7 linked regions of the Homo sapiens genome follow. The protein of the gene in region 2 purifies or fractionates together with the protein of the main gene of each other region. This does not show direct contact. Each region holds a gene or a part of one and is shown on either strand. Other genes may lie near its edges. The genes, in order: RBM25, NFIA, LHX4, KDM6A, ADAR, TRPS1 and FOXP4.

What was found.
Region 1: the proteins of NFIA (region 2) and RBM25 fractionate together in Homo sapiens (co-fractionation; one large-scale study listed by BioGRID). This does not show direct contact.
Region 3: the proteins of NFIA (region 2) and LHX4 purify together in Homo sapiens (co-immunoprecipitation; one large-scale study listed by IntAct). This does not show direct contact.
Region 4: the proteins of NFIA (region 2) and KDM6A purify together in Homo sapiens (affinity purification with mass spectrometry, with the first as the bait; one large-scale study listed by BioGRID). This does not show direct contact.
Region 5: the proteins of NFIA (region 2) and ADAR purify together in Homo sapiens (affinity purification with mass spectrometry, with the first as the bait; one large-scale study listed by BioGRID). This does not show direct contact.
Region 6: the proteins of NFIA (region 2) and TRPS1 purify together in Homo sapiens (affinity purification with mass spectrometry, with the first as the bait; one large-scale study listed by BioGRID). This does not show direct contact.
Region 7: the proteins of NFIA (region 2) and FOXP4 purify together in Homo sapiens (affinity purification with mass spectrometry, with the first as the bait; one large-scale study listed by BioGRID). This does not show direct contact.

The regions. Positions count from the first base shown.
Region 1 is NC_000014.9:73,100,034-73,103,533, forward strand, and holds part of RBM25 (RNA-binding protein 25), read left to right. Parts: intron 1-3,158; coding exon 3,159-3,445; intron 3,446-3,500. UniProt on the Homo sapiens protein: RNA-binding protein that acts as a regulator of alternative pre-mRNA splicing. Involved in apoptotic cell death through the regulation of the apoptotic factor BCL2L1 isoform expression.
Region 2 is NC_000001.11:61,085,561-61,089,060, forward strand, and holds part of NFIA (nuclear factor 1 A-type), read left to right. Parts: intron 1-2,588; coding exon 2,589-3,120; intron 3,121-3,500.
Region 3 is NC_000001.11:180,236,764-180,240,263, forward strand, and holds part of LHX4 (LIM/homeobox protein Lhx4), read left to right. Parts: intron 1-3,500. UniProt on the Homo sapiens protein: May play a critical role in the development of respiratory control mechanisms and in the normal growth and maturation of the lung. Binds preferentially to methylated DNA.
Region 4 is NC_000023.11:45,061,688-45,065,187, reverse strand, and holds part of KDM6A (lysine-specific demethylase 6A), read right to left. Parts: intron 2,542-3,500; coding exon 2,440-2,541; intron 1,767-2,439; coding exon 1,371-1,766; intron 1-1,370. UniProt on the Homo sapiens protein: Histone demethylase that specifically demethylates 'Lys-27' of histone H3, thereby playing a central role in histone code. Demethylates trimethylated and dimethylated but not monomethylated H3 'Lys-27'.
Region 5 is NC_000001.11:154,591,187-154,594,686, forward strand, and holds part of ADAR (double-stranded RNA-specific adenosine deaminase), read right to left. Parts: intron 1-3,500. UniProt on the Homo sapiens protein: Catalyzes the hydrolytic deamination of adenosine to inosine in double-stranded RNA (dsRNA) referred to as A-to-I RNA editing.
Region 6 is NC_000008.11:115,666,176-115,670,109, reverse strand, and holds the start of TRPS1 (zinc finger transcription factor Trps1), read left to right. Parts: upstream 1-1,134; 5' UTR 1,135-1,565; intron 1,566-2,096; exon of another isoform or gene 2,097-2,226; coding exon of another isoform or gene 2,227-2,236; intron 2,237-3,934. UniProt on the Homo sapiens protein: Transcriptional repressor. Binds specifically to GATA sequences and represses expression of GATA-regulated genes at selected sites and stages in vertebrate development. Regulates chondrocyte proliferation and differentiation.
Region 7 is NC_000006.12:41,594,881-41,598,380, reverse strand, and holds part of FOXP4 (forkhead box protein P4), read right to left. Parts: coding exon 3,390-3,500; intron 1,206-3,389; coding exon 1,139-1,205; intron 601-1,138; coding exon 431-600; intron 1-430. UniProt on the Homo sapiens protein: Transcriptional repressor that represses lung-specific expression.

The sequences.
Region 1 (3,500 bases), on a different chromosome or scaffold from region 2:
TCAGACTTAAATTAGATTCAGGGGGCAGCAGGATAACATACACTGTAGTGTATTTCTGGGGGCAGTTATTTAACTTGATCTTAGGAATACCTTTTCTTTAGAGCTGAGATTAAAATTTACATTTTATATTTGTATAGATTTAAGTTGAGTGGGGGAGATTTTAAACAGTAGGTCAGTGGTTACCAGACTTACCAAATTTTAGATGCATGGAAGAACTGTAAATTCCCATAAAGCTAATCTATTCATTGACCCCCACCATTATGATAGAGATCATATGGTGACTAATGCAAGATGAAACTCTCAGCTTGGAAAGTAACAAGGAATAGGATGTAAGTATGAGCTTCTGTTTTTTATTATATTTATGGATGCCCCCTCAGAAAAATATGCAAAGGGGTAACTGGCTTGGAAATGGGTATTTATGCATAGTAAATCCCACTCACGAGTTTTGCCTATTTGAAGCTTCTCTCAATGACAGTGCATCTGTGAATGTTCGCTGGTGTTGAAAATGATGCTTTTGAACGGTGCAATGCAAACACTGCATGAAATGTATTTTGATGGTCGAGATAATAAGGTGTTGCTGGTTCTTACTGATAGACTGAGAGATCTTTAACTCAGTGAAATGTTAAATGTTCATTTTCTCTTTTATTCTTACTTTTTCCCATTGCTTTCAAAATCTGCAGTTCACAAATAATGCCAATGAATCAGTGCTGCTGAACACTTACTATCCAGATGCCCAGCCCTTGCTCACAAACACAATGCTTTTTCAAGAATTAAATGTGTCTAAGAGCACAAACATAATTCTCCCAAAATTAATTTTGAGAGTTGAAAAGGTGGTCTATGGGAAATCATTTTAGATGAATAATTTTGGTTAGGTATAATACTGAAATTCAGGACCGAGTAAGCTTAAAAATGGTATATGGTTGTGTGTGTGGTTTACCCCCTTTTTGTTTTTATTTATTTGTTAAACCCTGTCATGTTATTGGTAAATTATGAGGAAATCATGTTTTAAGAAAAATTCAAAAATATATTTGCTTTAAAGTTTGGGAATCTGTTAGGCATTTTACTGCCTTAGTATTATTTCACTGGAGGGAATGTTTTGAATTTTCAGAATGTCTTTTCAAAATAAAAAGAAATCAAAATGAAAAACCAAAACAGTTGTTTTTTATTGGGTGGTTTGGCTAAAAGGGTTGTTTGAAACTCCAGTAACAAAAAATGAGCTCAGTGAACCTTTGCATGTTTTGGTATGAGTTTATTAAATAACCACAGACTGTCAGGGTATCAGCGTGGCAGGGGGCGTCCATTTACAGCACGGATGAGTCTGAAGAGAGAATAAGGTAAGATTTATGATTTTTTAATCTGTCCTTTCCTCTTCATGACTTTCTTACATAATTTTAGACTCACCTCATTTCCCTTCTCCAGTCTTTCTTTAAAAATATACATGTATGTTTACATGTATACCTGTATTTGTATACATGTGTGTATATATATATATATATATATCTCATATATAAACTTCAGGAAACATTTAGTATGGACTAGATTCACTCACTTTTTCATTTACTTAGAACCAAACTTTTGAAATGAGTTCTGAAACAAATGGTTATTTATATAACTGAATATAAGGAGCACAGTGAAATAAGCAAGAATTAAAAATTGAGGAATTCTACAGGAAAAATTAGTATTGGAACAGCTAAAATATTCTGTAAGTATCTATTTCAGAAATAAACAAATTTCTTTATAAGTGTATGCCATTGAGGTAAGTTTTATATAGTCTAGCCTCATTTTACAATATAAATTTTTATATTCATTGGAACTGTTTCAGAAATGAGATTTTTCCCCCTTTAATAGCTGTTAGTTTCTGTCCTCTTTCTATCATATCTTATTTCATCCCTTTGTAATTTCAATGTATTCAGTTTTGACTTTGCCCGTATTCTACTTCGATATAGACTGGCACAGCAACTGAATATATTGCTCATACATTAGCTTTCCTTTCATAACCTGCTATAAGTTCTCTGATCCATGAGGAAGAGAAAAAGAGTATCTGACAGGTAAGATTGCTTTTTAAAGTTGTTTTAAATGCATTACATGACTGAGAAAAGAAAAATGCACATTTTATTGTTGCAGTTTAAAATTTCATTTTGGTGAAACTAAACGTGAAACAAAAGGGATAAATGTGTTTTGTTTTGTTTTGTTTTACCTGTTTGGGGTATTTTTTTCTGAGTTTGTGTAGAAACCGTGTGGTACACTGGTAATCTTGTCAGGGTACAAACTTGGTCTGACTTTGTTATTTGGTTTATTTGTGAACCATGTACTTGCTCTTCCTCCCAGAAACATAGCTTGTAGGCAAGGTTAATCCAGTGTTGGCGATCCATGTCCTAGCACAGCATCTGTAAGTTAATGCACAATCGTTCCTTCCAAGGATGGATTTATCATTGTAAATATATTTTCATTGTCTTACAGGCATAATGGGCATAAGTATGTTGCTTTTAAATATTTTAAATTAAACTATTACAGTTACATATATTTTGCTTGAAGTGAGTGATTTTCAAACTTTTTGTATTTGGTGGGCTGTCCATCTTGTAATGGTGGGAGTAAATGTTTCCATAGATGATAAGGCAGTTCTTGGCTGAATTCAGCTTGTGTTTCTTTTGGAGGGTGGGCAAATCAGAGGGCAGAGATTATTTAGTTGCATTATAGGTATTCTTCTATACCACTTGCCCTTTGAAACCCTCAACTTGAGGTAATGTGCAGTCTGGGGTTTTAATTAGTATTAATAATCTTGTGGATTTACAGAAATCTATAATGCACAGAGTTGAGTTTTAACCAATGATCGTATTCATAGAAAATATTTCGAACCACCACATTCTTCATGGTCATTTTAGTTAGTACATAGTCATTGAGTGGCCAGCCACACCTGACACAATCTCCCAGCATCCAAGATTGGAGATTCCTGGTCTGTGTAGAGTATATGGTTTTGCACGAAATCTTTCTAGTCTTGTGATTGCTTCAGTTTAATTTGTCACATAAAACCACAAGTATTTAATATTAATGTATCAGTGGTTTGGTGTTTTTGTTCCCAGTACTGGGCTTTGCGCCGGGAAAAATCTGAATACTGGAGCTACAGAGTTAACTCTAAAAGTGCTTTTATTGGTTTCTAGAAACTGGAAGAAGAGAAAGGCAAAAAGGAAAAAGAAAGACAGGAAATTGAGAAAGAACGGAGAGAAAGAGAGAGGGAGCGTGAAAGGGAACGAGAAAGGCGAGAACGGGAACGAGAAAGGGAAAGAGAACGTGAACGAGAAAAGGAGAAAGAACGGGAGCGGGAACGAGAACGGGATAGGGACCGTGACCGGACAAAAGAGAGAGACCGAGATCGGGATCGAGAGAGAGATCGTGACCGGGATAGAGAAAGGAGCTCAGATCGTAATAAGGATCGCAGTCGATCAAGGTAAGGCTTTACAGAAGTTACTGTTTCCTGATAGCTTTAAGAAAACTATCGGGTA
Region 2 (3,500 bases):
CACACTACTTTTTTTTTTTAACTAATCATTTATGCTATTCCTGGACATTTCTTGCAAGCTAATGATACTCTTTAGTTTTGATATTCTGGAATATTTTAAATCATGACTTGAGAAAGATACATTAGAAAAAATCAATACTTTAATTGTGCATATGAGTAAAGTTATACAAAATATTGTGGACTTTTACTGGCAGGTTCTTAACCTTTGGGGAGTAATACATTGTAAATACTTTTGATGCAAAATTGGGGACTTAAGTTATTCTTAATGACTAATTGACATAGTTGTTCTTGTTTAAGGATTTTTATGATGAGATATATGGGCATTTGGTTGGCAGGTAAACAGAATCCTGTTGGACACGAATGCATGCATGCAGTTTGCAGTTTTTTGAAAAGCATATTGGGAGTATCTACAGACACTTAAAATGCCATATTAGAATGTTTATTTTAAATGCTTATTATCATTAATCAAACTTTTAAATAAGATAACATTTTAACATAGATATGAATCGTTTGGAGCTAAGTTATACTTTGCATTATAAAATGGGGATGAAACTTTAAAATGAAGTCCTCCTTTTGGTGAAAGCTCACTTGGTAGTTTAAGGTAGACTCCAGGAGTTTTTTGCATAATACAACAGAGTCTTGGTCCCTAGCATGTCTTGTATATATAAGAAAATCAGTCAATGTGAAGTTCTGTTTCAAACCTAAAATTTATGTATTTTAGATCATTTCAAGGATGAGCTCAGAATTTAGTAACGTTTAGATGCTTTGTGGTTTGGCGTATACCTTTGCAGATAAACTGTGACTTGCCCCCCATGCCTGTCACCTAAAGTATGAGAATAAGAAATATTCTCAAACATCAGAAATTTTAAAAATGTTAATGGTTTATGGCAAGAATAACAATTCCTGTATTTTTTTCTATTCTCTCTCTACTTAAAGAATGCACACGTGTTACAAAAGCTGACTACTTCTCTTTTGGATTCTTTTATTGAAAAAGAGCAGTTTTGAAAGCTAAACTTGAAACATAGAACCTGAAATTTGTGCAGAGAGGAAAAAAGTCAGTTATTGAAGTAATTTATTATGTATTAATATATACTTACTTTTAAAAGCTCAGTCATATAGAGTGTTTAAATGATTGATTATAATTTGCTAAATTTTTAAACAACACGACTATTAAATATTTTACCTTATCAGTTCACATTTGAACATTTAAAAATTTAGTAATTGTGTTAATAATAATATTCTGGACATTACTGCTACCTGTGCCTTGAAAGTATATATTTAGTTAGATATAACAAACTGAAAAAGAATGCATTTTATAATATTTGTCTGTCCTACACCATTTAGCAAAAAAGCCATCGAATCTTTCTTTGGTTTCTAATCCTCATTTATTTGAAGGTAATCTATGTTTTGGAGAGGGGGTTATGTGGCAGAGAGAAGTTATGTAACAGTGTGGATTAGTTAATCAAAAGTTAGACGTACTCCGAAAGCTTTGTGGAGGTTACTGCTTAATTTTTTAAAAAATATATTTATATTTCCTAAGAAAATGTCATGTATAAGGATCAAACATTTTAAGCAAAACAGAAAGAAACATTTAAATATTTGAAACTCAATTTTTTTTTCAATTTTAAGAGGCATCTATGAGGGTTTTCCCGGCATCTTGTAAATATTGAAAATACCAGGTTCTGATTCCCTATGAGAAAAATCCTGAAATAGTATTTGCAAAAATTAAATAATCTATTTTTTAGGTATGATTATTACTGAAAGCACTTCACAATCATATTAGTAAATTAAATGTATTCATGTATGCTTTTCTTTGTTTTTTTTTCCTCTTTCTTCCCCCTTTTTGTTTCATTCCCATAGTATTAGCAATTATGTCTTGGGCATAGATCTTTTATTTTAGCCTAATAAATATCAAATTCAATCCTTCTTTTGTATATGAACCTCCCAAATTTGTCCTAGTTTTTGACTAAAAAAATTATATGTAGTTATAATATTTAAAAGGGGAATTTAGACACTAGCAAAATGAGTAAGAAACATATCAGAATCTACATGCAATATTTTTAGGGGGAAAGCCTTTGTTTTCATTGATTGTAGAGATGATTTTTTGCTCCTAGACTTCCATAAACATTGACTGGCATCTAAATGTTTAGGATTTGCCAATCTGGCGGCTGGGCCCTGGCTGTACTACAAGTGGTGAGGTCAAGGCTGGGACAAAATTAGATATGCCTTCCTTGAAATAGGGTTAAGATTATACATTGTTATAAGCATTTAGATAAACTTCACTTACTATCTAAAGGATGGGGAGCTAGGCCCGACAGTAGTAGCTGGTGTACCCTGGTGAACATATTAAAACAGTTTTTTAATTTTCAGCAGTTTTTTTATTTCCGATCATAAGAAATGATACTGATAGTTTTCTCTCCCACCTTCCCAGACTTCCCATAGGATCCTGTGTATGATTTTGGTAACAGAATGCTCTAATCAAATTTCAAGTGAAATGAGGAATTTCTTTCTTAAGGTGACCCGCTGAAGAAAAGTTGTTTTCTTTTGTTTTCATTCTACTTATATTTTTCTTTTTGTTCATTTTCCTAGGATGAATTTCATCCTTTCATCGAAGCACTTCTGCCCCACGTCCGAGCCTTTGCCTACACATGGTTCAACCTGCAGGCCCGAAAACGAAAATACTTCAAAAAACATGAAAAGCGTATGTCAAAAGAAGAAGAGAGAGCCGTGAAGGATGAATTGCTAAGTGAAAAACCAGAGGTCAAGCAGAAGTGGGCATCTCGACTTCTGGCAAAGTTGCGGAAAGATATCCGACCCGAATATCGAGAGGATTTTGTTCTTACAGTTACAGGGAAAAAACCTCCATGTTGTGTTCTTTCCAACCCAGACCAGAAAGGCAAGATGCGAAGAATTGACTGCCTCCGCCAGGCAGATAAAGTCTGGAGGTTGGACCTTGTTATGGTGATTTTGTTTAAAGGTATTCCGCTGGAAAGTACTGATGGCGAGCGCCTTGTAAAGTCCCCACAATGCTCTAATCCAGGGCTCTGTGTCCAACCCCATCACATAGGGGTTTCTGTTAAGGAACTCGATTTATATTTGGCATACTTTGTGCATGCAGCAGGTAAGTGCGATGGTGAGAATTCCTCCCACTTTCTTGTGTGTGTTTCTTTCCTGATGGCCTCCGCGTTATGCCGGATTCTTCCTGAGCTCCCCAAGTTGCAGGCCACGTACATGAAGCCAGTGTGGTTTCAAAGATTGAGAGAGGTGCCACCTTCATTCAGGTGAAAAAGCATAGCTTTGAGCGAATTCTCACTAAGTTCAGCTCTTTTGGTAAGTAGTGTTTTCAGAGGCGTTGGTAATCAGATATGTGATATGTTTAAATCACATTTTTTGATGAGGGGATGAGAGAAGCCTCGTGAAAACCCTTTTAATAAAGAGTATATTTTAACTGACAAATGATCTAGTTTAAAAGCATTTATTTTGGTATTGAGGCAATATTTT
Region 3 (3,500 bases), about 120 Mb from region 2:
TGGGACGCATAGGGACTTGGAACCAGTTTAGCTGAAGAGAGGACAAAAGGAGTAATATTACCCACTTTGAGAAACCCACGGTTGGAGACAGACTGAAGCAGCAGTTTGCTGTGGCAGCACCAAATACATGGCTGCATAGACGGCTGAATTTGGAGAGGGCTGGCTGGGGTGCCGTTGAGGCGATTTTACTTTTGTAACAATGTTTTGCCTTTCTCCCTTCCTGGAATGAGTGTTAACAATGCCCATAACAGAGATGTGGGCAAATAGGGTCCACTGCTTTTAGTAAAATTCCATCGCGGTCTGGTGGCTTGAATTTCTCTTTCTTCCTCCCTCCTTCTCCTTCCCCTGTTCCCCCAATTTCTTCTGTCTATCCCTTCCTTCCTTTGCAAAATCTTTGCAGGGAGAAACATGGGATAGTGCAGGAATTCACGACACAGGGGTTTTACTCGGCGGGGGGGGCGGGGAGGAGGGCGGTCGTGTGTCCAGCAGGCTGCACCGTGGTGGAGCCATCTCTCTTTCTAGGCGCCCTGGGAGGGAAGCACAGGTGCTGGGTATAGGACAGAAGCCGCCCTGGAGCTGGGCTCTTATTGTCTGTGGTAGGAAGAAATCAACTAAAATTAGATGCCACTGTGAGGTTTTACCTTATTTAGTCCTCAATTTTATAGGATCCCTGATCAAAATGGAGCACAAGTCAACCATTTTGAGGCATTGCTTTTGGGGGTAGGTGGACAGGTTGGGTTTAATTGGTGAAAATGAAATGGATTCTCCCTTGGAAAATGGACTTTGGGGTTAACTGTATGAGCGGCTGACTGGAAAGTCGTCTTGGGAGGTGAGTCCTACCTCCTGCTGTAATTTTGGTGGATTTCTTTTCTCAGATCTCCCCACCCTGTTCCCTCTGTCAGTCTGGGTCTAGCCACAGATGTTTAACTGCAGTACCTCACCCCCACATGTCTTTAAAGTATAATTTGCTTTAATTATGATGTTAGGGGGTTAAGAGATTGGTTCTGGGAATAGCTTAATAGAGACAAAACTTGCAGCCAAATTAATTGAAAGTTTCTTGCTATGAGGGAAAGATTGCCAAACATATGGAATACTGTTACAGAGTGAGACATTAGAAAAATACATTGTAGAGATTTAGCAATGATTAAATGTGAAAATGGAGTGGAAATAGACGTGTCTACAACATTTCCATACACAAACATGGATTTGCTTAATGTAATTTTCTGTTTTATTTGCAATTACTGAGATATATGATATCCTACTGAAGAATACTAATTACGTGACAATATATCACCTAGGAGATAATCCCTGCAAATACATATTTACATTGTGTATTTCATTTGTTACTCGACTCCTTATGTTAAAATATCCAAATTACAGCCTTAAAATGATAACATCGAAATTATCTCCAGTTTACTTTTGAATTTGTTCTTTTATTGAAGAGGTTTCTATTTTTGACTAAGCCGAAAAAGAACAAAGGAGATTTTCAAAGGCACCCCAAGCCACCAAATAAAGCAAACAGTAAAAGTGGGAAGGATTCCGGAAAGCAAGTGAAGGGAAAGGACAGCTTCAGGTGTGATCATTTCTGATGTAAGAAGGATTTTCTGACTTTTTTTCTGGTTGCTAGTCATTTGTCAAGACAAACTAGAAAAAACTAGAAATTAGATAAAAAGACGTGAGTACACTGATGCATTTTAAAACATGTCAGTGCATATGATGATAGAGAATATGATTTACCTTCAATGCGATGCTAATTTTTAAAATTAGAATTTTTCTAATATTTTTGTGGCTGGCCCAGCTCTCTTTCTTTAATGCTGCTGTCATCATTGATGTTCAATGTGCCTTTTCTCTTTATGTTTTAAAGAATTAATGTTGGAATTTTGTGCTTTAGCTGTGTTATGTGATTATTACTAGGTTGTGAAAATCCCTTAAGAGGAATTTTATAAAAACATTTTGGAAAATTCTGTTATTGTCTCTTCAAGATACGCTGATTTAGAATAAGTGAAAATATAAAAACGAGAACTATAAACGGTTCAACAAAAATGAATGTTCTTTAATGACAAAGAGCCAGGGTTGGGGGGCGGCACACACCAGATTTGTCATGGAAAACTGAGTCGTGGGCCTCAGGTTTTCCCTGCGTGGGGACTGCATGGATGAATCAGGCCTTCTTCCTTTGGTCACAATTACCAGGTGATTTAAAAGGGGAATTGTGACCAGAAAACAGGATTTTATCATCAGCGGTGATGGTGGCTACTTTGAAATGGAAAGTTTTATTTTTGAAATATTTATCCAGTAATAGACCTCTTAGTTAATTTAATTTTAATGTAACTATACCTCCGTTATAAATCTTTGACCTGGACATTTCAGAACTCAGGTATGTGTTTAGGCAGGTGTGCCACAGCTTGGTATATCCTGTAGCTTCACCTTGTTGATGCATTTTAGAATTAGTTATTCCCCGACTAAATCAATGAGCCCCCCACTGACAGTATTTCCCAAGCCTGCCTTTAGAAAACCATCTTCCTTCTTTCTTACTCAGGGAACCTGAGGCAACAGAACAGCAATGTCTGCAATTTGTTGTTTTCTCTTCCTTACATGTGGGAAAGGAATGGAAAATTTCAAGAAAAACATTTGCATACTATTTCAGTTGCATATGTGATTCCTTAAAGCCCCATTTGGCGTCTCCTTTCAGTTAGTAGTCAGTAAAGAAACTTAACAAATAAATAAAATTAAACGTTTTTGGAAATACATATTGGCCAAATGTTATTTGAGACAGAGCTCAAAAAACTGCTTACTTCTGGAGGGAAATCACCAGCAAAAAGGTTTTGGGCAAAAATCCCAGATGGAGGTGGCTTTGATTGAGCACAGGTGGAAGCCATCAGACCCAGAGTAAAAGAAGGTTTAGTCCTAATTCGGCCTCAAACTGTGTACCCGTAGGGAAGCCCCTTATTCTCAGAACCTTTTAAACGTAGACAATGAATGTCCGCTTCACAGGGTGTCTGGGAGGAGGGAATGAGCTTGCCAATTTGAAAGTACTTGACCAAGTTTGGAGTGCTGGTGGTCTTAAGGCACTCAGAGACTGGGATCACAGCTCCCATTTCACAGACACAGCCGCCCCTGGGAGCACTGCTGGCTGTCCCAAGAGGATGGCCACCTGAGGGGGAATACTGTGGGGTCTGCAAACAGGGAGACCCGGAAGTGGCTCCCATGGACCCAGCTCCTTTTCTCGAAAGGAGCAAGAAAAACCTTGTCCTGAGCATTAGGCTGTCAAGTCAAAGCATGAAACAAAAAGAACACTTCATCCAGAAGGCAGTTAAAAAGCAAAGGGAGTTAAAAAGCAAAAGCCTCACAGGAGGCACATCAAGCTGGCACATCAAAGTACAAACTTTACAAAATATTAATCTGGTCTCAGAGCATCGTTAAATAAACATTATTCCCTTTTAAAATTATTATAATAGAGGTAGGGGCTCACTATGTTGCCCAGACTGGTCTCGAACTTCTGG
Region 4 (3,500 bases), on a different chromosome or scaffold from region 2:
TCACAAATAGCTTCAAGGCTCACTCCTGTAACTCTCATCCAAATGCTATCTTTCAGAGAAGCCTTCCCTGCCCTTCTGATTTATAACTGCAACTCTCCTACCACCAATCTCTAGTATTCTGCTGTTCCCTTTCTATTAGTGCTTTTTTCCATAGCACTAATCACAACCATCATCTAATGTTATATATGTATTGCTTATTTGTTTACTATCTATTTACCTACACCAAGTAGAGACATCTCAGTATATTTTCTTTATTGATGTATTCCCAGAGCCTTGAGTAGGAAATGAACCTAGTAGGTACTCAGTATTTCTCTAAGAATGAATAAAGTACTAATCACTTTAGATCAGGGTCCCACCAAGGATATTAATTCAAGAATAAACTTAAAAATCTTAGAAAAAGAACTTATTTCAGTTTTATCAATAATATAAGACTAACCGACAATCAGCCAAATATTTCTCTTTTTAAGTCAAATATTTCTCATAGTAAATTAATAAAAGTACAAGCAATTTGGCTATACATATTGAGAGCATTTTCTTAAAACTTACTCTTTGGCCCTTCAGTTTCACCTCAGCGAGTACCCATATCATGGAAACAATCCAAAATATGGGAAATACTATGCACATAAACATTCAGAAGTAAAAACTTAGAAATTAAATGTCTAACGAATGTGCTAACGTTGAATACATTATGACCCATTTCCTTGACAAAAATAATGTGCATGCAATTCATTACTCTGTTTCAAAAACTTTAGTGGATCAACTTTGCCTTCAAGATAAATTTGGCCTCTCCCTCAGCCTCTTATTTCACCCTCCCCTCTTCATAACCTATCTTCTAGGCACACTTCACCAGCCCTCTCCTCCCCTAAACTCTAGCTTCTGGAAGACTCTGACATCTTGGTTATGTGCTCTCGTAGGTACTCTGATAGAACTTTCCCACCAAAGTCACACTTCACAGTCATTATGGTAAATACTTATTCACTGGTCTTTTTCTCCCACTAAAGCAAATACCTAACACCTAGTTTAGTGCCTGATCTTAAGTAGGCAGTTTATGCAGAAATGAACTAAGTAATATTACATAAATGTGCTTATGATGCCACTGTAAATTAATGGTGCATTTTGGGTGATTTATATGATCTATTTTCTTCCTTTGTAAATTTGCTAAGTTATCTATGTCGGTAGAGACTGTACAAAGGGAACAAAGATATACTCATGTATGTACATAATGAATCACAATGTAGTAACATTGTAGTGCCACAAAATTCTTATAAAACCAGTTCCCCAAACACTTCTCTCTTCTTCTCTCAAAGTGTATAAAACCCAGTAAAAACATTTATGTGAAAAGCCAACAAGGAAGCTAGTCCTCCTATTACCTGAGTGGAGTTAGATAGTTGGTTTTTCCACGGCTCCTCTGCGCTGCTGGTCAGGTTTGTGCGGTTATGAGGTAGAGTGAGTGCGTTTCGCTGCAGGTAAGGCACGTTTCCATTACTTCCACTTCCTGTTATATGATTATTGCCTATCAAAATAGTGTCTGTACTTCCCAGCGTTCTTGATGTGCTACAGGGAACATGGCCTGCAGAAAAGGGTCCATTGGCCAAAGGCTGCCCAGGGCAGGCAGGACGGACTCCAGGCTGAGAGACGCTAGGCACTCTGGTCAGAGCAAGCTGTGGCTGCTGGCCAGAGACTGAGTTTGTAGGCAGTGATGAGTCAGCTGTTGGCCCATTAGGAATTCCAGTAGATCGTACCTGTGCAACTCCTGTTGGTCTCATCTGTCAAAAAAACAAAGGAAAAGTAAATGCTGGTTGTGTAATCTATAGGGAAGAGAATCTATAGGGGATTCTCTATGAATCCCCAGATGAATATGAAGATGTATAATTAGGGAATGTGTGATTTTACCCAAATGCTTAATTTCTCTAAGTTGAGAAATACATACTTTAAAAACAAGAAATTGTATTTGTTCATTTTAAAATAAACTTCCTTGAAAAAGCAAAAGTCGGTTTCAAAAAAAAAAAATCCCATTAGTAATGACAAAAGGAAGCAGCTGAAAATTATAGAAAACGACCCCGAACTTATAGGTCCTTCTCTCAATCACAAAAGAGGGGACATCTCAAAATTTCATTCTGTTACATATATGCCAGATCCTGTAAACTAAATAAGCCCTAAAAACCTTGCCTCAGTACTAAATAATGTAAACAAACCCTTAGAATACATGTGAAATATCATGTAAATAAATAAAATACAAAGTATCTTCTTCAAAATTATAGTTGCTTTTGTCTAAAAATCTCCGTCAATTACCAGTATTTTAAAATACAGAGATTACTAAATTCTGTCAAATACCAGTAGAAAGTAAAAATGAACATAAACATGCTCTAAAATGACATTAGAGTCAATAAAAATACTCAAAATGCTAACAAATTTCAGGGAAAAATATGCTATACACACTTGGTGTTGTTGCATTAAGACAAACTGACTTTCCAGCTGTTCCAGCATCAGTTTCTGTGCTGGATTTAAATTATTTCTATTTGCGCGGAGCTGTTCCAAATGCTAGAAGAAGAACAAAAAGAGAATATAGTCAAAGATATATTTAGGAAATAAGATCATTATTCTAAGCAACCTTTCCCTGAAATGACTAAACTCAGAACCACTATCTGGTCAAACACACTGTCTTCTGACCAACAGTCACACACTCCAAGATGAAGTCCTTTAATAAGCTTGAGAAATATAAGAATGAACTAAGCATTCATCTGAACAAGATTTACTATGAGTTCTTTGTAATAGATGGGCATGAAATTTTACTCATCCATACAGTATTCTTAGGTATTCACAGAGAAAACTCTTGAAGCTTAAAAATATATTGACAAGTATGCTAAAAGCAGCACTGTCTGGAATAAGCAAAGTCTGAAGACAACCTGAATGTCCAAAATTACTGATCTGCTTAAATAAAGGTGTTACATCTATATAAAGAAATATGATGTAACCATAAAAGAACAAGGAAGCTCTTCACATATTGACATGCAGAAGTCTGTAAAATATGTTGTTAACAGCAAATAAGAATCCTATCATTTGTGTAAAAAAGAAGAAAAATAATAATACATGTGAGAAAGGGGGGGATGTATATTTGCTTGTACATACATAACATACCTCTGGAATGATAGATAGGAAATTAGTAATACCAGCCACATTTTGAGTGGGTAGGGGCCAGAGTTAGAAGAAAACTTTACCCTATATACCCTATATTTATACTTTATGTAGTGTAAACCATGTCCTGTTTAAAAAAAAAAAAAGAAATTAAAAACAAGAATGAATGCTCTTCATTATTCTGGTAAATGCAGGCTCATTTTACTTTTGTGCATTTTAATTGAATGTACTGCCATTTAACTTATAAGAATTAATACTTAGGGCTGGGTGCAGTGGCTCACACCTGTAATCTCAGCACTTTGGGAGGCTGAGGTAGGTGGATCACTTGAGGTCAGGAGTGCAAGACCAGTCTGGCCAACATGGCG
Region 5 (3,500 bases), about 94 Mb from region 2:
ATAAAGGAAGATTATGAAGTATGAGGAAGGCTTAACGAAATGCTAGCACCAACTTGGACTCTCTTCTTAAGCAGAAATCAGAAGGGACTACCTTTCTCCCCACAAGTCACTGTTACTTCATACACTGTCTGATTTTTAAAGCGCCCAACTCCATTCCCTCATTTACTTCCTATTAGCTCAAGGGGACTTGACCTGGAGAGGTCATTAGGTCAAGGTCGGCCTTAGGCCAGGGACCCAGGTTTTGCTGGGAGTTGTTTTTTTGACTCCTGGCAGGCTTAAGCTAACTCTGGGGTAAGGAATGGATCTTGGGCGCATGAGCTGCGCTGACAATAAAGTGCCCAAGTGGAGCAGGGAGGTGGCTTCTACCGCTCCGGCTGGTAATTTCCAAACACAGAGGGAAGAGCATGGTGGAGCAAAACAGCTTGGAAATGTACCAGACAAGGCATCAAGAATCCTAGCTTTCAACCAGATCCTAATCTACTGGCTGAGAACCCAGCTTTGGATACTCTAACTGCATATAACAGAGGCTTCAGTTTCAAGACTTAGCAGCTCAGGCAGTAAAAGGAATCAACGTTTATGTTCAACCACATGGAGTTTCTCACTGTTCCTTGATGATCCGAAGCAACTAAATGCCTTCACTCTTTTCTTTGTCCATGCTGGCAGGCCCGTGCAGGCCAGTGGGCTTAAGTTCAGAATGAGAGGGACAGTGGCATGAAAAGAAGATGGTGAAGGCGGTCAGGAGGGACAGATTGTGTAGTATCTTTACCTCAGGGATCCAGGAGAATTTCATGACTGCCCCATGTGTTTGAAAAGAATATGAACTCTTACGTGCAAAGTTTTATACTGATATATTTACATATATGATAAAGTTTGTTAATTATGCAACTAGAATCCTTTAGAGCTGTGCTATCCAATATGGTAGCCACTAGCCAAATGGGGCTATTGCCATAAGTGCCTCCTCTCAGCCTCTTTGCCAGCTCTGCGCTTCTCCCACCACAGGATTTAACAGTGTCCTTCGCCTAGAACCCTCAGTCTTTCTCTCTTCATCATCCTTAAAGTCTCAGCTCAGGCAGTACTTCTTGGGGAAGCCCTTCCCCCTCTCCTTCCTAAGTCAAACTGTGCTATAATTGATTCTCGCTGCAACTCCAGCCCTTTGGAATACTTATCAAATATGAGATCTTACATTTCTTTAGGTGACTATTGGTTAATGTTTGGTTCCTGTTCTAAAAAAAATAGAAGATACTCCATAAATAAGTGTTGAGTAAATAAAGTATAAAGATCAGTTAGGAGGCTATTGTGACAGTCTAGATGAGACAGTGGCTTGGATTAGAGTGCTGACGCTGGAGGTGGAAAGAAGAGGAAGGGATTTGGGATAGAAATTCTAAGTATAACCAATAGGACTTAAGGATGAGTTGACGAAGGAGGTAAAGGAGATAGAGGAAAAGATGATCCTCAGGTTTCTGACTTGAGCCACTGGGTAGACAGTGGTATCACTTACTAAGCTGGGAAAGACTTGGGGGAAATGAAGCGAAGGGGGCAAAACCCAAGAGTTCTGCTTTGGACATGTCATATTAGGGATGTTAATCCAAACAGAGGTGACAAGTAAGCAACTAGATGGAGGAATCGGGAGCTCTGAGTGGTCTCCAGCATTTAGATATTAAAGGTCATGGCTGTCGCGGTGGTTCATGCCTGTAATCCCAGCACTTTGGGAGGCTGAGGCGGGTGGATCATCTGAGGTCAGGAGTTGAAGACCAGCCTGGCCAACATGGTGAAACTCTGTCTCTACTAAAAATACAAAAATAGTCAGATGTGGTGGCAGATGCCTGTAATCCCAGCTACTCGAGGAGCTGAGGCAAGAGAATTGTTTGAACCCAGGAGGCGGAGGTTGCAGTGAGCTGAGACTGCGCCACTGCACTCCAGCCTGGGTGACAGAGTGAGACTCCATCTCCAAAAAAAAAAAAAAAAAAAAACAGAAAAGAAGTCATAAAATTAGTTAACGTCACCAGCCACAGTAGACAGAAAGGAAAAAAAGACCCAGCATAATTCACATTAAGAAGCAACTAAAGTATATTATTGTACGAGATAGTTAATAAACGTAGTTACTCAATTAGCATTTCCCCTCTCTATGCAACCTTCCTCAGCTCCCTGGCAGACAGTGGCAGCAGTGTCCTCTGTGTCCCCACAGCACTCTGCATTCACCTCCAATGGCACATTTCAATACTGCTATGGCTATATGTCTGCTACACACTCAGGGGCAGCAATTTTTTGTATCTTCCATCTAGTTCATAGTAAGTTCTTACATTCTCAATGAATGGCTGACTTGAAGTCCTAGAAAGGATTTCACAGAAGATTTCACAGAAGAGAAAGAGGAAATGCACTGAACCTATCATCTGAAGGACTGTGCTTAAAGATAAGGAGGTGCTTATTGAGATGAAGGATATGAATTAGTAGAAGAGCAGCTGGAGGGAGACTGGGCCTCTCCTTTTCCAGATGGCTTAAACAGTGGGCAGATGTGTGTTCTAAATTGGGTCATGTTGGGCAAAGGGCTACTTTTAAAAATTATGTTAAAAGTTCTTACATATCCATGAGAGTAACAATCTGAAAGAAAACTGGAAAAGGACAAGAACAGGTGGTTCACAGAAAAGGAAATGCAAATAACACATAAATATGAATAAATGAAATGCCATTACTTCTGATTTTTTTGTTTTTTTTTTTGAGACGGAGTCTCACTCCATCACCCAGGCTGGAGTGCAGTGGCACAATCTCAGGTCACTGCAACTTCCGCCTCCTGGGTTCAAGTAATTCTCCTGCTCAGCCTCCGGAGTAGCTGGCATACAGGGGCATACCACCATGCTCAGCTATTTTTTGTATTTTTAGTAGAGATGGGGTTTTACCATGTTGGCCAGGCTGGTCTCAAATTACTGAGCTCAAATGATCCACCCACCTCGGCCTCCCAAAGTGCTGGGATTATAGGCGTAAGCCACTGCGCCCGGCTGACATTACTTCTATTAAGGAGAGACAAATTTAAAGTAACAAGATAGCATTTTTATAAGCTTTTTTCCTTAATGACTTTAAAATGGACAAGTTGGATGCCAAACATGTGAAAATTCAAACAGTTAAGAGTGTACAATAAAAGTGTCCCTCCTTCCCCAGAAGCAAACACAGTTGCCAGTTTTTTCGATCCTTCAAGAAAATATTCTAGACATATACAGACAATCTTCACCTCTCCCCTCACTTTACACCTTGCTTTTCCACTTTGTGATAGACCTTAGAGATTAAGAAAACATGCCGGTTGCATGGCAAGAGTGATGCCATCTTGATGCAAAACCACTATGACCACCAATATCTGACTCCCGCATCCCAAAGTGTTGGGTAGCATAAATAATTCCACACAAAGATGTCTACCAAGCCTCCCCACCAGCTAGTGCTCATAAGTTTCACAAGAAAGTATAATGTGTGACCAGCTGCATGTTTAACCAAAAAAGCCTCTATAGAAAGCA
Region 6 (3,934 bases), on a different chromosome or scaffold from region 2:
TTCTCCTTTTAGCACAAAATTACTTTAAACTGACTTTCACCAGAGGAAAAACATGCCACTTAAAGTCACCCAACTGAAGAAAATGAAGTCCAAACGCCCAAGAAATGTTTACTTTGTTTTTAACACCTACTATACTTTGAATCCTGTCATGGTAATGTTTTATGCATTGTTGATCTTTAGAAGTCAAAAAAAAAAAAAAAAGCTCAATCCAGTGAACTTTATGTTGAGGCAATTTCTCTTAATAATGAGAGTATATGGAGATGTAAAGTAGGTAAAAAAGAATGTCACGCTTAATTCAGAGTTCCTTATCTGCTACTAAAACCCAAACTGCATGTATTAATCTTGCAGCATTTGAATAATGTTCCCATTTTGTCTGTTTTGTGGTACCCCCTTAAAGCACCCATTGAGTTTCTGGCTTCTCTTTAGCTCAGAAAACCATAGCAACCTCAGTCCGCACTTCTCCAACTCAGGATAGAGTTCAAGTTGTTCTCCTCAAGCCTTCTTGCCGTGAAAATCGTGGGGAATCCTGATCACCAACTAGGTGTCCTAAGACTTCTTGCCACAGATAAAGGGCGGGGGAGGGGGCGCACACGCACACACACATCCTGCGTCGTTTAATTGGGAGAGAGAAGGGAAAGTAACAACAGAAAAGGTAAAAGGACTTTGAGAGTTCTTTAAATTGTTTCTGTTAGCATCTCTGAGTGTCTGGGGAACGTCGGTTTGGCGGCCACGCACTGCCCCCCACCTGCCCCCCACTACCCCAAGGTAAGTCCTCGTCTTTATCACATTATTCCTAACGCGTTCGGATTTTTCCTCCTTTTCCAGCCCGCACGTTCACAGACGGGAGGTGGGGGAGGGAGGAGGGGGGAGAGGCGGGGCGGGAAGGTAGCCGGGTCCCTGCACCGCGCCGCTCTCATTTGCGGCGCTCCGACTCGGGCGAAGTTCTCGCGCAGCCGGCTCGCCGCGGCCGGGGCCGGTCCCGGCGGGCGGCGGCGGCGGGTGCTCGGAGCCGGGCGGGGCGGCGGCGGCGGCGCGGGGACGCGCGCTGTCTCTTTAAGGGAGCTCGGTCTGGGGTGGCGCTTTCCTCCGCGAAGGCTCCTTTGATATTAATAGTGTTGGTGTCTTGAAACTGACGTAATGCGCGGAGACTGAGGTCCTGACAAGCGATAACATTTCTGATAAAGACCCGATCTTACTGCAATCTCTAGCGTCCTCTTTTTTGGTGCTGCTGGTTTCTCCAGACCTCGCGTCCTCTCGATTGCTCTCTCGCCTTCCTATTTCTTTTTTTTTTTTTTAAACAAAAAACAACACCCCCTCCCCTCTCCCACCCGGCACCGGGCACATCCTTGCTCTATTTCCTTTCTCTTTCTCTCTCTCTCTCTCTCTCTCTCTTTTTTAATAAGGGTGGGGGAGGGAAAGGGGGGGGAGGCAGGAAAGACCTTTTTCTCTCCCCCCCGCAATAATCCAAGATCAACTCTGCAAACAACAGAAGACGGTTCATGGCTTTGGCCGCCGCGCCACCATCTTTCGGGCTGCCGAGGGTGTTCTTGACGATTAATCAACAGGTAAGGAGGGGAGGCCCGAGCGGGCCGCGGGGCCGGGGGCTGCGGGGGGCGCGGGGGGCGCGGGCGCCCCTCGGCCGGGCCCGGGGCGCCGCGACGCGAGTGCAGCGCCCGCTCGTGTGCGCGCAAAATGTGGGCGATCGCGAGCGGGGAGCCCTGGGAATTAAAAGTGACTTTCTTTGAAAAAAAAAAAAAAAAAAAAAAAAGCAGAGGGAGAGTGTGCAGAAAGCCAAGCGCAGGCTTCTCGGGTTTCACATGCATTTTCTTTCTTCCTTTTTGAGCGTGTGATTTCTTTCTTTCTTTCTTCTCTTCTGCTCCCTTTTTCCCCCTTCCTCTCCTCCTTTTGGTGGGTCTGAGGCATCTGAGCTTTGGAAACCAGCGACTTCAAACTGCAGTAGCCCCTGGAGTCAGCAGGGTCAAGTTCAGCCGCCGGGGAGGAGGAAAAACAAATCCCCATTTGCCAAAAAAAGAAGTTTCAGGCCGGTGCCCCCTCCCCCTCGCAGCCCCACTCCCCCTCGCTGTCTCTTTCTGGCTGATTTTAATTCTCTCCTACCGGGCGCAGCGGAGGAGCTGGAGGTGGTTGGACCCGAGGGGCCGCCGCCGCCGCCGCCACTGCAAGTTTTCTGGGGGCTCGTGACAAGCGGGGCGCAGACTAGGCACCAGCATGCAGAGTAGTAAGTTGGGCGAACTCGGGAGGGTCGGGAGGGTCTCAGAGACGGGCCTCCGTATGGTCTCCAAAGTGGGAAAACAGCACAGGACTGCCTTTGGCTTTGAAGAGTTTGCAAATGCAGGCTTCAAACTTTTTTCCCTTAAAGGCCCAGCTGGGCTCTGGAGAAGGCGGGTGTCGCATCCCTTGGTGCACCCGCCTCAGAGCGGCTCAGGACAGCTTGGCCGAGCGGTCTGTGCCCTGTCCGTACCATGTGGCAGGGCCTTGCAGCCCGGGCGCTTCCGTAGGGGCTGAGGAAGGGGCAGACTTCCTCTGCGATGCGGTTGATGCGCCATGTGTCGCGCGGGTCAGGGGACACTGGCCGGTGATTAAATGCCTGACAGCGGTGGGACATCCAAGCGGACAGACGCTTTGCCTTCTGTCTGGTTCCTGTTTGGGATCTAGAGAAACGCATCTTTGAAAGGCCAAGGCAAACATCGCTGTCCCTCCAAATAACTCCAGGATTATAGGACCCCAGGAATAATTTGAGGGTGAGGCGGCGGTGGGAGCTGTTTGAAGTGTAAAGCTGTTTTTGTGGCTGGGAAAGCTTTTTCGTTAGTACCTGTCTGAGATGGTGGTGTTTCCCCCTTTCCCCAGGGAAGTCAGCAACTGTTTTATGGCCCCAGGACTCTAAAGCAATTTAAGTTAGAGGGTGAGAAGGACTGGTGGGTTTCAGAGGGAATCTTGGACTTATTAAATTTTAGGACCGGCTTTACTTCCCTCTATCTTTTTAGGCCTCATATTTGATGCTTTGAAAGTTTTTTGAGTAAGCCATTGATCTTAATGATGAATCTAAATTATGATAGAATATTCATTCTTATGCCATTTTGGAAAATCACGGCTAGAGTTTAAGCGAGGTAAGTGAAGTGAGAAGCTCAGCGGAGGAGTTAAATCTGAGACAAGTTAGGCCTATTCATTGAACTTTTGTAGATTCATTGAACTTTTGTAAACACACCAGGTGAACAGGAAAGGAAAGGGTCTGGGAGAGATAATAAGTACAAAAGAAAAATACAGATAGGGCCTGAGACAAAATTACAAAGAAATGATAACTCTGGGCCTGGTTGTTGGCTAAAACTTGATTGTTCAAAGCAAAAATAAAATAGGAACCTTCCAACAATTCTTCAAAGTCCTCCAGCTCTGAAGCTAAAACCTATGGATCTTGCTGGCATCATGTTACTTTCCTGCTGGTTTTAGAAAAAGTTGATCATTTAGAAAAGGCTGCCAGAGTTAAAAATGCAAGGGACAGCAGAGGAAAGTCATGCGGGCAGCCAGTTCTTGACGTGGACAAAATGAGAATGAAAGTTTCTGAACTCACTGTTGTGAAGTTTTACATGCCGCTCATTTGCTTAGAAGGCTCTCTCAGATATTCCACCAGTTAACGTATAAAAGCAAACAGGATCTAAAATCGTGTGGGCTTTTTTTTTTTTCTTTCCCCAAGTATGCCAGGGTTGTGAATAAATACAGGGTTTGTATGGGAAGATGAAGCGTTTCCTGTAAGTTCTGATGCTGACAGGACAGTCTGGAAATGATACCAACATTTTGAGGATTTTTTTTTTTTACCTTTAAGTGAAAGTTTATTAATGATATGCTTAATCTTAACAAGTCAAACATATTCTTAGAGTTTCTCTCTCCTTGGATTTCATAACTTCCTTTTAAAGCTACACCT
Region 7 (3,500 bases), on a different chromosome or scaffold from region 2:
GCTGGGCATGGTGGCAGGCACCTATAATTCCAGCTACTTGGGAGGCTGAGGCAGGAGAATCACTTGAACCCAGGAGGCAGAGGTTGCAGTGAGCCAAGATCTTGCCATTACACTCCAGCCTGGGTGACAGAGCGAGACTCCGTCTTAAAAAAAAAAAAAAAAAAGAGAAGAGAGGAGGAGGAAAAATAAGAAAGGGGGAAAATGGGGAGGAGAAGGTGGGAAGGTGGGGAGGTGGGGAGAGGGGATAAGAACAGGCAGGTGGGACAAGGGAGGGCTGAGAGGGCTGAGGGAAGGAAGAGAGAAGCCACTTGTCCTGGGGAGAGGCGTGGTGGGGGTGGGATGGGGAACCCCACCCAGGGTGGGGGATGACGCCTCCTCCCTGGTGGTTGAGGGGTGCTGGGGTGGGTGGGGGTCCGTGCTGTGTGCTCACCTGTACTGGGGCGGGGAGAGGCGAGGAGGGCTGCTGCTGCCGTTGCTGGGCAGCGGCTCCACGGGGGCACCCACGTCATCGTGGCTGAGGGGCAGCAGGCTGCTGGCGGAGCCAGGGTTCAGCATGCCAGGGCTGTTGAGGAGGGGGAAGCTGCTCTCGGCCAGGGCGGCCTGCAGGGGCACAGGGTTGGGCCTCGTCAGTGGCTCCACAGGATGGGGCACACTCAGTCAAGTGCTGTGCCTTCCCCGCCCACTAGAGAGCTGCCTGTGTGTCTGCCTACTGGCCCCACGGGCGGATCTGTCTGGGCAACCCCCAAGCCCCAACTCAGCCTTTGAATGTAGCACCCCTCCCCCATGGCTGGAACTCTGACCCCCCGACCTCCTACCTCCTAGCTTTCCTGGAACCTGGGCCTGGCTTATCCCCTCTCCCAGGGAACAGAGAACCCCCAGACTGACAAACCAGGAAAGGGGATGCTATAGGTATGCCATCCTCCCAGCTGCCTGCCTTGTCTGAACCCAGCCTTGAAAGCAGAGGTGGAGGCTGGCCCCGAGTTGGGGTGGGGCAGAGAGGTGGGGTCTCGGAGAGTTTGGGTCTTCACCCTCCTTCCCTCCTCTGGTGAGTCCTCTGCAGGGGAGGATGGGGGTCTCTTGTATGAGAAAGCAAGGGGGCGGGAGGTAGAGGTGAGTGGGTGGGCTCTGGGCAGGTCACCTGGTAGCTGGCATTAAGTGCTCCATAGCTGAGGCCAGAGATCATGTTCTTCACCAGGGTGGGGCTCCTGGAGGACAGAGAAGGCCATCTTTGGCTCACTCATTCACTTAGCTCTTCATTCGCATCTCTTTACTCTCACTAAGTAACGGCCTGTGCTGGGAATGGGTCCCATTCCCTATTCCGGGAGGCCAGGGCGGATCAGCCGCTGTCTTGGAGCTGTGTGTGTACTTGGTCTGATTCGGTCTTCACGCTCAACTGGCCCTGCAGGAGCAGCCCCTTCACAGGTGGGTGCGATGGGCTTGGTTCAGGGACCTGTCCAGGTCTCGGAGCTGGGAAGTGGGAACTGGCATCCCCCCAGTGTCTGCCTTCACAGCATGCTGCCCCCCCACCCGTTTTCTCTCCGGTCTAGATTTTCCAATGTTTGGCAAGGTCTAATCTATAGTCTCAGTAGTTACACACCTGGTCTGCCCACACTGTCTTGCCATCCTAGATTTTGGGACATGTCAGACATATGCTCAGCCTGTCCCACATGGAGGCTTCTGTATGGAAGCCTCCATACAGAAGGCTTCTCTGCACGGGAAGGTGTTCGGGAGTTGGGACAGGAAAAGCAGTGGCTGGGGGCTGTCCCTCTTCCAGTGATGACACCATCACAGAGCTCTCACAGAGCTTAAGGAAACAGCCAAAGGTCACCAAACTGGTGAGAAGCAGAGGTGCAAGCGCAGCCAGGCCTGGAGACTGGCCCCTAGGCATTCACCAGGGGATGGCTTCCCTCCATTCTCCAGGCTGCACACTGCCTGGGGTGCAAAGGCTCCTGCCTGGTAAGCAGGCATCTTTGAGGGGAGCAGACACCCCACACCTCAGAGACATCCATCTAACTTGCTCTCCTCTCCTTACCCAGGGGCTCTGGCCCAAGGGGCACAGCAAGCAGGTGGCTGGGGTGGGGCTGTTTGAGGTCGGGAGAAGGCCACTGCTGCTACGTGGAAGCCAAAGGGAGGTCCTGACCCTGTCCCAGGCTCCTCAGTTTCTGTTTAAACTGCCAGGTGGAGGCTAGGTGCGGTAGCTCACGCCTGTAATCCCAGCATTTTGGGAGGCCGATGCGGGCAGATCACCTGAGGTCAGGAGTTCGAGATCAGCCTGGTCAACAGGGTGAAACCCCGTCTCTACCAAAAGTAAAATAATTAGCTGGGTGTGGTGGTGGGCGCCTGTAATTTCAGCTTCTCGGGAGGCTAAGGCAGGAGAATCGCTTGAACCCACAAGGTGGAGGTTGCAGTGAGCCAAAATCGTGCCACTGCACTCCAGCCTGGGCAACAGAGCAAGACTCTGTCTCAAAAAAATAATAGGCCAGGTGCGCTGGTGCACGCCTATAATCCTAGCACTTTGGGAGGCCAAGGCAGGTGGATCACCTGAAGTTGGGAATTCGAGACCAGCCTGACCAACGTGGTGAAACCACATTTCTACTAAATACAAAAAAAATTAGCCGGGCGTGGTCGTGGGCACCTGTAATTCTAGCTACCCGAAAGGCTGGGGCAGGAGAATTGCTTGAACCCGGGAAGTGGAGGTTCCAGTGAGCTGAGATCGTGCCATTGCACTCTAGCCTGGGCAACAAGAACAAAACTCCTTCTCAAAAAAAATAAATGAATAAAATAATAAAATTAAAAAAATAATAAATAAATAAGTAAATAAATAAAATGCCAGGTGGTGAAGTGAAGCTGAGCACAAAAGACCAGGAGGGCAGAGACCTGGTCCTGGAACCAGCTCTGCCACAAATCTGCTCTGGGGCCTCCTGCCAGCCCCTGGCCCTCACTGGCTCTCCTCTGCCGTAAGATGAATTGGTGGGGTCGCGGGACCTCAGAGGTCTAGTCATCCTGATGAGCTGAGAGAGCGGGTGCCCTGGGGGTGGCAGCCCCTCACCCATGGCCCGTTGGCTGGCATCTGCCTGTGTGCCAGCTCTGGCCAGGGCTACTTGGGGCCCCTGTCTCTCTTTGCTACCAGGCCTCCTTCTTGGCCCCTTCCCTCAGTCAGAGTGAGGACAGAAGAGGACATAAATGTCTGCCTTCTGATTATCCATCACTTCCGGATTCCAGCCCCCTGTCCCCAAGCACTAGTCTCCTCTGCTCCTTTCTCCCCACACCCCTTCCCCCAGCCAGGAAGGATCTGGTGCACATGTGTACCCTGGAGAGGTAGGGGGTGGGGGTGAGTTGGCTCCTGCCCCCTGGGCAGGTACAGCCCATCCAGCTCTGGACCCACATACCCTGTCATCTTTGGCGGTCTCCGCTTCTGATACTCCCGCTCGTCCACAGTCCACACGGCACCCTTGACGTTCTCCACGCGGACGAAGCACTTGTGCAGGCTGAGGTTGTGG